Linked DNA regions of Homo sapiens. The protein of the gene in region 2 purifies or fractionates together with the protein of the main gene of each other region. This does not show direct contact. Each region holds a gene or a part of one and is shown on either strand. Other genes may lie near its edges.

Region 1 (3,652 bases), on a different chromosome or scaffold from region 2:
GGAGTGCAGTAGCATGATCACAGTTCATTGCAGGCTCAAGCTCCTGGGCTCAAGCGATTCTCCTTCCTCAGCCTCCCCAGTAGCTGGGATTGCACATGTGAGCTATTGCGCCTGGCTAATTTCTTATTTTTTGTGGAGACAGGGTCTCCTTATGTTGCCCAGGCTGGCCTCCAACTCCTGGGCTCAAGCAATCCTCCTGCCTTAGCCTCCCAAAGTGCTGAGATTACAGGCGTGAGCCACAGCGCCTGGCCTCTTTGTAAAATTTCTTCACATCTCTAAAGCCTGTTTCCTCATAGGTGGGGTTAGATGAAGTACATTAATGTCCAATACATAGGCATGTAATAACTGATACTTTGCCCCTCAATCTTCTATGGCGTAAGAAGCCATAGAAGATTTTCCTGAATCTGCAGATTCAGGAAAAATAAGTGGTGGAAAGCACTCCTTCCTGATACTAAGTAAGTGTGAAATTATTCCCTTCTTACCCCAAGGTATGCTCTAGGATTCTCATTCTCCTTCATTAAACCTCAAGAGGTTGAGAGAGACAGAGACAGAGACAAACAGACTGAGACTAAGACCTTTAAGACTTTTAGTACAAACTCAGAGTCAAAAGAGGCAGGAGGACTAAGGCAGGGTCTTGGGCAGGTTCTTGAGAGAAGAACCTTCCTGCCCTGGCAAGGATGAATAATAAATGAAAGTCCCAAAAAGTGATGAACAAAGAGGGACTCAGTGAATCCCTCATGCTATGGATCTACTTGAACTACTGTCCAAACAAACACATTTCTGTTTATGGGGAAGCTGAATAGTTTCTTTAACCTCTGAACCCATAGCTGCTACATGGACACACTAAATAGAAAATAAATAAGTAAGTATATTATTTAGATGCTAAGTATACTTGGTTGACAAGTAGAGCAGGATATCAGAGGTAATCTACCCTACTCACAAAATACAAAATGTGACAAAGAGAAAATTGGGAATCCAGCCTTTGTACACATAGAGGTCTTGGTCTACACAGTCACTTTTCCCAAGTATAGCGTTGTTTGCTTACCACAAAAAAGATGTCCACAGTTGGTCTCCACCGGGAAGGAGGCTTGGTGCAGGCAGATGGGACAGTACATGTCAGTGTAGAACTGCTGTCGAGTGGCAGCAGGTGCATCCTAATAAGAACACAGGTGCACACATTGGAACACAACACATGTGGCCCTCAACAGTATCTCATGTTAAATTATATTTGAGAACAGAGTCAGCAGTGTGTAACCCTCATCAAACTGTAAACGTGCAATAGTTTAAGGTTATAATTTTAAGAATGTTATGAGGCTATATTGTTTTTATTTAAGCTGCATGGTTTCCACTTTCCTTCCTAAACACAATTTAAAGACAAAAACTTAGATTAACTCAAGAGTTCATCTTTTACTCTACTGGAATAAGTAAATTATTCTGAGTAACACAAGGCTGAGCTAGTGCATAAGCTAACAATAATAAATGTCGAGGTCAGGTGCAGTGACTCACGCCTGTAATCCCAGCACTTTGGGAGGCCGAGGCAAGTGGATCACTTGAGCCTAGGAGTTCCAGACGAGCCTGGGCAACATGGCAAAACCCCATCTCTACAAAAAATAGAAAAATTAGCCAGGAGTGGTGGTGGCATGCGCCTGTAGTCCCAGCTACTTGGGAGACTGAGGTGGGAGGTCACCTGAGCCTGGGAGGTTGAAGCTGGAGTGAGCCGTGACTGCACCACTGCACTCCAGCCTAGGTGACAGAGCGAGACCCTGTCTCAAAAAGAAAAAAATATCAAATGTCAAACTGTTTTCTAAGTCTTCACTTTTTTCATTTTCAACATCTTTTTCATTTTAAAAGTGTTGCACATATGCAAGAAACATCTAGATATCAAAGACCTCACTAGGATGGATCATGAGGGCAAGGGATTTATCTGTAGGACTCATTGTACCTCAGGACCTAGAAAAGTGTCTACATGGCCGGGCACGGTGGCTCACACCTGTAACCCCAGCACTTTGGGTGGCTGAGGTGGGTGGATCACTTGAGGTCAGGAGTTCGAGACCAGCCTGGTCAACATGGTGAAACCCTGTCTCTACCACAAAATACAAAAATTAGCTGGGCATGGTGGCGCACACCTGTAGTCCCAGCTACTCGGGAGGGTGAGGTGGGAGAATCACTTGAACTCAAGAGGTAAAGACTGCAATGAGCCGAGATCACACCGCTATACTCCTGCCTGGGCAACAGAGACCCTGTCTCAAAAAAAAAAAGTGTCTACATAACATATATTTTATGTTATTGTATTGTAAAACTTATTTATCAAAACTTGTTTTAATGGAACCCAGCACAGATAAAGTTGCTAGCATGAAAAATATCTAATTACAGAAAAAAGTATTAAGTTTACTAAATAGGAACTGTTCTTAAGTGAATCAGATTTTTGCCACTCAATATTCATAAACAAATTTAATAAATTTAAATAATAATAAATATAACTAAAATTTCATACTTCCAAAACAGTCCTAAATCACCAGAATATTCTGTGATCCAAGGCTACACCTTGATGTTATAGTCACTTATGTCAGTTCTAATGCTACAAAAAGTGTACAGCACTTTATGTTCCCTTCTCTACTTTTTTTTTTTTTTGAGACAGAGTCTCGCTCTGTCACCCAGGCTGGAGTGCAGTGGCACAATCTCAGCTCACTGAAACCTCTGCCTCCTGGGTTCAAGTGATTCTCCTGCTTCAGCCTCTGGAGTAGCTGGGATTACAAGCACCTGGCTAAAGTTGTGTTTTTAGTAGAGATGGGGTTTCGCCATGTTGCCCAGGGTGGTCTTGAGCTCCTGACCTCAGGTGATCTGCCCGCCTCAGCCTCCCAAAGTGCTGGGATTACAGGCGTGAGCCACTGCACCCAGCCTTCTCCTTATTAATTTTTAAAGAAATTGACAAAAAACAATTAACGGTGCTGTCCAACAGAACTTTCTGCAATAATTGAAATCTTTATCAGTGCTATCCAATACAGTAGCCAGGAGCCACATGTGGCCATTGTGTACTTGAAATGTGGCCAGTGTGACTAAAAGACTTAATTTCAGATTGTGTTTAATTTTAACTCACTTGAATAGCCACAGGTGGCTGGTAGCTGCCATACTGGACAGCACAGAACAGACTACATCGCCAGCCTTATTTTCACTCTGAGAGCTGTGTGCTGGGCCTCAGGAAGAGGTGAGGCAGTTGAGTGGACACTGCTGCAAGGAGACCTGGAAGATTCTCCTCAATCTGGGGCCCCTCCATAGCTGAACCCAGTCATGAAATTGCTAGTGTGAGTGTTAGCAAATCTTAGCAGTCTCATATGTTAATGAGAATAATAGTAGTTGCCTTACTTATGTCTAAAGATTAAATACAATTGTTGTTTGGGAAATCACTTTGTAAATTATAAAACACTATCTCAACATGAATTATGGGTAACAATTGTTATGGAACACAGTACTACTAATAGGCTTAAACTATTCTGTCTTTTTTAGACGGAGTCTCACTCTCTGTCACCAGGCTGGAGTGCAGTGGCGCAATCTCAGCTCACTACAACCTCCGCCTCCCGGGTTCAAGTGATTCTCCTGCCTCAGCCTCCCAAGTAGCTGGGACAACAGGTGTGCGCCACCATGCCCGGCCAAT
Region 2 (3,652 bases):
GCCACTGTGCCCCTCACGTCTCTGCTGGTGAATGGTGACCCTCTGGTGGCCAAAGCGTCCAGGGGGACTGCCCGCCAGAACCAGGATGGGAAGGTGGCCAGGACCTGCTCAGATGGGCACAGGCTGGCTGCCTTCGGGATCCTCCGGGGTTCCAGTGCCAACTCTGAGTGAACTGGGACAGCAGGGGGACCCTTCAACAGCCCGCACTGGCGCTGACCACCCACCGCTGTTCCATCCCCCACTGCTTCGGCCCCAGCATTTCCAGCCCTGCTTTCCAGGACATGCACGGTGACCACTTGAGCTCTTTATTGTTGGAGGACATTTCCATGCACATGGGACGTGCCGACATACGTGGGGACACTGGCACGCAGTTCACGGCACAGCCCCCACTCCCGCCCTGGACTCCTCTGCTCACCTCTGCACCAGGGACAAGGCAGGTGCAGGGAGAGGAGGCCCAATCTCGCAGACAGCCACACTGGGGGTGGGGGGTAGGTGGGGGCTGCTGTTGGCTCCCCCGCCCCCAGCCTCAGCTGGGCGTCCAGTTCTGGGTTGTCCAGCGACGCCCTCTGGGTGCCAGAGTCCAGCCCTAGCTGGGGTCCCAGCAGGGTTCAGAAGGGGCTCTCAGCCAATCTAGGGAGGCCACCAGCCAAGGGGGTCTCCGCAGATGAATCCTGGCTGCCACCACCCCTCCCAAACTGCAGCTCCTTGCTGGGAGGGCCGTGGCCGGGCGAAGATGAGGCCCTGTGGTTGCTGGTGTTCCGCTCCTCCCATAGCACTTTGCCCAGGCGCCAGCGGTGCCAACGCCGCCGCAGCTCCGACTGCACCTGGGGAGGGGGACGGGGCAGGCCAGTCCTAGGGCCTGCCTGTCCTCTCCACCCCACCGGGACCTGCTGTGGGCCTCATCGGAGATGCCCAGTCTCCGCTCTGAGGGGTGCAGAGCGACACAAGCTCCCTGCTGGGCACAGCTATGCCACCCAGCATCGCCACGGAAAGCAGTCTGCAGACACCTGGGGACCCCCACGGTGGACACCGTAGCGATGGGGCTGAGGCCAACCTGTCCTGGGGGCCTGACACCCAGCGCCATGGCAACTGCACCCAATAAGAGCAGGGGGAGGGAAAGGCTTGGGCCCCACGTGTTCCAACCCCCGGGCAGGGGTGGGGCTGGCATCCCTGTGCCTCTCTCTGCCCCTGACCCCGACGGCCAGTGCTGATGGTCTCAGATGCCCCCACTCCCACCTACCTCCTTGTTGAGGAAGCAGTAGAGGACAGCCACCAGCAGGCCCTGGAGAGACAGGGTGGTCAGGGGTGGCACACTGCGCCCCGGGCGGGGGAGCCGGCGGGCGGGCGGGCACCTGGAAGGAGCTGAGGAAGAGGTCGAAGAAGAGCTTGGCGGAGCGCAGGGTGCCCTGGGCGTGCTCGTCCGTCACGAAGGCGAAGACCACTTCGTGGACGCCCAGCAGAGGGATGAGGGTCAGCGTGGACTTGGCCAGCCTGCAGAGGCAGCGCCTGAGTCACCCACCGCCCCCACCCTCGGCCCGCACCATCCACGTGGAGCTTGGAGTCCCCACCCCCAGCTGCCCTCTGGCCCTGAGGGTCTCCAGGTCTCGAGACGCCAGCTGCCGCGGCACCCACCGGAACTTGTAGTCTGTGTGGTGCATCTGCCGTGCCCGCAGCTTGGCCACGAGCAGCTGAACGATGCGGACGAAGATGAAGAAGTTGATCTGTGTGAGAAGGGTGCGAGTCAGGGGCATCCCGAGCCCCAGGGAACAGCTCTGTGCCCTTGGAAGGCCCCACCTGACCCTCCTGCAGGTGGGCCTGGCAGCAAGATAGGCCCTGGGCCACATAGCCCTGGGGCTGGTGGGCACACAGCCAGGGAGGAACAGCCTGGCTCAGTGTCCAGGGTGCTGGCCAGTGTCCTGGTGTCCTGTCTGGGTGCCGGCTCCCTCCCAGCGCTCTCAGACAGGATGCTGCTGTCTCCTGGGGCAGCCTCAGGACGCCAAGGGAGGAGGGGCCTGGGGTGCGCTCCTGGCTCTTCATTTCCTCACCAGGATGGCCAGGAAGACGGGGAACCGCAGGATCCACCAGAAGCCCATGTTGTCATTGCTGGTCCAGCACCTGCGAGGCCAGGCCACTCACATACTGGGGCACAGCCCCCAGCCCCTCCGCCCCTCAGCACCCCCGTCCCGATTTTGCCAGGATCTAATTCGGGTCTCAGAAAAGGAAGGGAGAAGGTCACAAATGACCCCCTCCCCAGGCACCAGGCTCATCCCCGGCCCCTCCCTGCCTCAGGCCAGAGCGCCGCACCCCAGCCCCCCGGTCCCTCCCCAGGCTGTCCAGCCGCTCATACTCACTGGACGTTCTCGAACAGACACTTGACCACTGCCCAGGGGACGACGAACAGCATGGGGGCACCTGTGGGGGGCAGCAGCTGTGGTCCCAAAGGCTTGGTCAGCCTGCCTTAACCCCCTCTCATGCCAGCCCACTCACCCCAGCCGATGCCCAGGTAGAGGCTGAAGAAGCTCCTCTCGGGGAGGGTGGCCAGGCCCAGCAGGTTGTGCAGGTACAGGCCCTCCACCAGCAGCCAGCAGTAGTTGGCCACGATGCCATATTGCATGAACACCGCGGCCACACGGCAGCCAGCCACCGCCTGGTACAGGTGCAGTGTGAGCGCGGCTACGTGGCCACCTGCCTGGCTGCCCACCCACCCACCTGCCTGGGGCCGCCGAGGGGGGCTCACTCCATCACTGAGCCAGGTGCTGACACTGAGGTCGTCGCCAATTTTCTGGCTGTAGCGGGTCCTGAGCAGCCCATCAATGACCAGCACGGAGCTGGCTTTCAGCACGAAGGACGCAAACAGATTCGCGTGGATGGCATTGCGGGTGCAGTGCAGCTTGCTGTGGGCACAGCCAGTCAGCGCCCGTCCTCCTCCCTGTCCTCTGCGGCCGCCCCGGGCGCTGGCGGAATCCTACCTGAGGCCCCCCAGGATGGCCAAGGCGAGGAGCAGGGCCCCCAGGGACAGGCTGTAGCCCACTGTGTACATCACCTGGAAGCTGCTGTACATCTTGGCCACCTCCTTCTGCGAGTTACAGTGGCCTGTGAGGGCCAGGCAGGGGCCCCCATGCCCGTTCCCATCCAGCCCCACCGCGCCTGCCTGCCGCCCACTGACCTGGACCTCAATCTCCTCGCCATCCATCTGGCACTGGGAGGCATCACGCCAAGGCTGCCCCCGGGGTCCACGCACCCACTGACCGTCGGGCCCGCATCTCTTGAACACGAAGCGGTGTTGCACTGGGGGTGTGGGGGGAGGCTGGGGTCAGCCCCACCCTGGGCCCGCCCCCCCCACAGTTCCTCCCCTCTATGGGTACCTTTGTGGTGCCAAGGCAGGTACCAGGGGCAGGAGATGTTGGCCGTGGTATTGGCGGGGGTGTCCGGCCAGCAGGAATACTTGTCGAAGGTTCTGTTGCACACCAGCTCTGCAGGGTAGGGTAGGGCAGGGCAGAGCAGGGCAGGGCAGGGTGGGAGAAGGGGCTCCCTCAGCAGGCCTCTCTCCTCTCTCTGGAAGCCTGAGCTCGGCCGTCACCTCGCCCAGGACATGGCCTGGGCTGCTCCCTCCCCCACTTGACCTCCACCTCCCCCATCTGACCTCCACCTT
Region 3 (3,652 bases), on a different chromosome or scaffold from region 2:
AATAGCCATCAGGCTTGGCCCAATATTTTACCTGTTACCATTGTTGTTCATATTTCCTTATAGTTCATTTCATCATCCTGTATTTTATTTATCTTTGTAAGCCATTTAACCACTTAGGCCTTTTTTGAAACAAGGCTTAAGTAAGTTTAAAATCAGTAAATACAAAGGACACCATCAAGAAAGTGAACCAACATTCCAAAAACAAGAGAAAATTTTTATAAATTACCTATCTGATAATGGACTGGGACTCGTATCTAGAATATATAAAGAATTCTTATAGTTTAATCATATAATACAATTAAAAAATGAATAAAGGATCTGAATAGGCATTTCTCCAGAGATGATATACAAATGGCCAGTAAGCACATATGAATAGATGCCCAATACCATTAGCCATCAAGGAAATGCAAATCAAAACCACAATGAGATACCACTTCACACCAACTAAAATGGCTATAACCAAAAAAAAAACAGAAAATAACAAGTGTTGGCGAGGCTGAGGAGAAACTGGAACTCTCATACACTCCTGAGGAAAATGTAAAATGATGCAGCCACATTGGGAAACAGTGGGAGTGCCTAAAAGATTAAATATAGATTTATCATATGACCCAACAATTCCACTCCATTTCTACCTAAAGAGAAATGAAAACATACGTCCACACCAGAATGTATACACACACATTCCTAGCGTCTCTATTTATAATAGCTAAAAACAACCCAAATGTCCTCAATTAATGAATGCAGAAACAAAATATAATATATCCATATAATGGGATGAATATTGTTCAACCATAAAAGGAATTATTGATAGATACTACAACATGGATGAACCTTGCAAACATTATGGTAAGTAAAAGAAGCCAGTCACAAAAGATTACATATTGGTGGTTTCCTAGAAACAGAAAGTATATTGGTGGTTTCCTAGAGCTGAGGAGATTGGGGAGAAACAGGGAGTGACTGCTAATGGGTACAGGGTTTCTTTATGGCGTAATGAAAATGTTCTAAAATTGATTTAGGTGATGGTTGCACAACTCTTGAGTATACAAAAACCATTGAATTGTACACTTTAAATGGGTAAATTATATCTCATTAAAACTGTTATAAAAAGTGCTAACAAAAAGTTTTAATAAATGAAGTACATCTTATAAACTAATAAAAGTAATTCATGCAAATCAGGTGTTTATATCAAGAGTACAAAAGAAATATTTTTGAGTATAACATATATTACTGTTAACATTTATTTTCCTTTAATTCTTACATTGGAATGAGATTCCTAGGGGTGGGTAAAACAATAGTCATTCTACCAGCAATGGCATATGTTGATACATGTTAATGGTATATGTTGCCTATGAATATATCAAAAACATAAACATTCTTATTTTAATATATGAAATTCTTAAGATGTTAAGATGGTCATATATACCTTTCAAAAATTTGTATTTTTTAATCTCTACAAATGAGTAGATTTTAAGAGCCTAGTAGGCTGATTAGATAGGATATATTCAATATTGAGTCCAAAGAGCAAAAGGACCCTTTGGAAGACTAAAGAGAAAGAAAGTTGCTGCCCTCTCTTCCTCCCAGTGACAGTCTTTGACATTTATTTCAGCTCCCGTTATTTTCACTGGAAAATGAACCTGTGTGTAATTCTGCTGATCCTGGTTTTCATGGTGCCTTTTTACATTGGCTATTTTATTGTGAGCAATATCCGACTACGTAAGTATTTTACCCTCTCAGTCAGCATATAGATTGAGATGAGTATTTGAGGGGACTTAAATTGTGGATAGCTTCATTTCTACATTAACTTTCAGTATCTACCGCTATTTGAGGATACCTCACACACAACATCTTAAAAATAAATATAAAATAAATATTGAATGAATTGGCACAAAATAAATATTGAATGAATGATTAGGTTATTTGTTCTGCCACAGCTTTATTTTTCTACCTATTAATAATGTCTCCTTTAGTTCATCCCACACCTTAAATTCAGCTAAATTTCTCTTACGATGGTAAGGATGCTTTCACTAAAAATTATGCTGTTCATCAGTCATTTGCCAAGTGAATTAGCAGCCAAATATTAGTTAGCATTATCTTATATTTTTAAATAGAGCAAGCTCTTTAACCTATATCTGTTTTTCCTAACAGTTTTGTCTCCTCTGTCTCAGTGCATAAACAACGACTGCTTTTTTCCTGTCTCTTATGGCTGACCTTTATGTATTTCTTCTGGAAACTAGGAGATCCCTTTCCCATTCTCAGCCCAAAACATGGTGAGTATATATAGGAGGGCAGAGGAAGTGGGGGGAGACGATTTGTTTAATTTTCTGATTTCAAAAACAATTAATTAAATTTCTTGGGGAAAAAATGTATTTGGGGAAATAATTTATTAATTCACAGGTTCTTGGGATTTGGAAAAAAATTTTTCTGATTGAGGAGGATAGCAAGCTATTTCTCTGAAAAATGTCTGATTTTGAACCACATTTTCTCCTTCATTCTAAGAGATAACTAATGCTGGTTTTGGACCTCACTTCTGTCATTCTAGAGTAGGAATTTTTGACCTTCATTTACTGAATATACTTAAAGGGTATAAGGAAAGAGAACGGTGTCTAACTCATATTGTATATGGAACTACAGGAATATATTTGTATGTGTATTTGGAGGTAAGGTATCAATAAACTTTTATCAGATTTGGGTAGCAGATTTGGGTCTGTGACCCAAAAGGTAAACGGCCACTGCTTAAGTGATGATAAAGATACATTAGGGAAGCATATGTATTTGAGGAAAGGTGACATAAAACACCCACAATTAGTAGATAAAGAAAAGCTTTCCAAGAATCGGTGTCTCCCCTCTAACAAAAAAAGTTTATTTTAAAACAAGAAATTTGGCAGAGCCCTAATTTTTAAGCTAAAAACAATGAACAAAAGTACCTCAGCTAACAAGTCCTTCCAGAACTATTTCAGAAGTATGTATGAATCTATCTAAAAAGATTAGAGAATCTATCTAAAAAGATTAGAGAGCCCATCTGTAATAAATATACTACAGGTTTCATGCTGGAACCTTTTTAAAAAAATCTATATATATATACCTCTTTATTCACCATCCTGCCGTACCTATTACTAGGCTTCTTATTGCAGAAAACAGAATCTACTGTAACTAATTTAAAGCAGAAAGTGATTAATTATACAGTATCAGGCAATTTATAGACTTTCTAGGAAAGTAGGGATGCAAAGCTTAACTGCTATATAGTGAAGAGAAATACCCAACTATGCCACAATACTAAACTAGAAAACCTCACTGAAGTTATCACCTGCCACTCAGGGTCTATGACATCAGGGACCTCAGTCCCAGCTGTTTGAGCTCCTAAGTGCTATCACCACCCCTACATTGTTCATTTCTGCATCTGAGGCCTCACATGGGCCGGGTTTTTTGGTGAAACCTAGGTAATATTTAAAACCTTGGCCTCAAGGAAGTCTGAGAAGGGGCTTTTGGCTTTCTAAACTCTGTAGTACCAAAACAAATGCTGGAAAAGGATATTGGAATTAATGTTGAATGAGCCAGTGTCTATTATAGAATCTGCCATACCTCCCACACACCCTTCCATGTATACTGATTGCCTATAGCAGGAATTTCGGGAGAGAGGTTATGAGACTCTCCT

What was found.
Region 1: the proteins of GCGR (region 2) and RNF170 purify together in Homo sapiens (affinity purification with mass spectrometry; one large-scale study listed by BioGRID and IntAct). This does not show direct contact.
Region 3: the proteins of GCGR (region 2) and GPR89A purify together in Homo sapiens (affinity purification with mass spectrometry, with the first as the bait; one large-scale study listed by BioGRID). This does not show direct contact.

What each region holds. Positions count from the first base shown.
Region 1 is NC_000008.11:42,868,959-42,872,610, forward strand, and holds part of RNF170 (E3 ubiquitin-protein ligase RNF170), read right to left. Parts: intron 1,155-3,652; coding exon 1,046-1,154; intron 1-1,045. UniProt on the Homo sapiens protein: E3 ubiquitin-protein ligase that plays an essential role in stimulus-induced inositol 1,4,5-trisphosphate receptor type 1 (ITPR1) ubiquitination and degradation via the endoplasmic reticulum-associated degradation (ERAD) pathway.
Region 2 is NC_000017.11:81,810,646-81,814,297, reverse strand, and holds the end of GCGR (glucagon receptor precursor), read right to left. Parts: intron 3,474-3,652; coding exon 3,366-3,473; intron 3,289-3,365; coding exon 3,167-3,288; intron 3,077-3,166; coding exon 2,970-3,076; intron 2,895-2,969; coding exon 2,738-2,894; intron 2,648-2,737; coding exon 2,488-2,647; intron 2,413-2,487; coding exon 2,352-2,412; intron 2,116-2,351; coding exon 2,046-2,115; intron 1,722-2,045; coding exon 1,633-1,721; intron 1,492-1,632; coding exon 1,353-1,491; intron 1,283-1,352; coding exon 1,241-1,282; intron 825-1,240; coding exon 609-824; 3' UTR 290-608; downstream 1-289.
Region 3 is NC_000001.11:145,621,448-145,625,099, forward strand, and holds part of GPR89A (Golgi pH regulator A), read left to right. Parts: intron 1-1,606; coding exon 1,607-1,713; intron 1,714-2,145; exon of another isoform or gene 2,146-2,165; coding exon 2,166-2,267; intron 2,268-3,652. UniProt on the Homo sapiens protein: Voltage-gated channel that enables the transfer of anions such as iodide, chloride, bromide and fluoride which may function in counter-ion conductance and participates in Golgi acidification.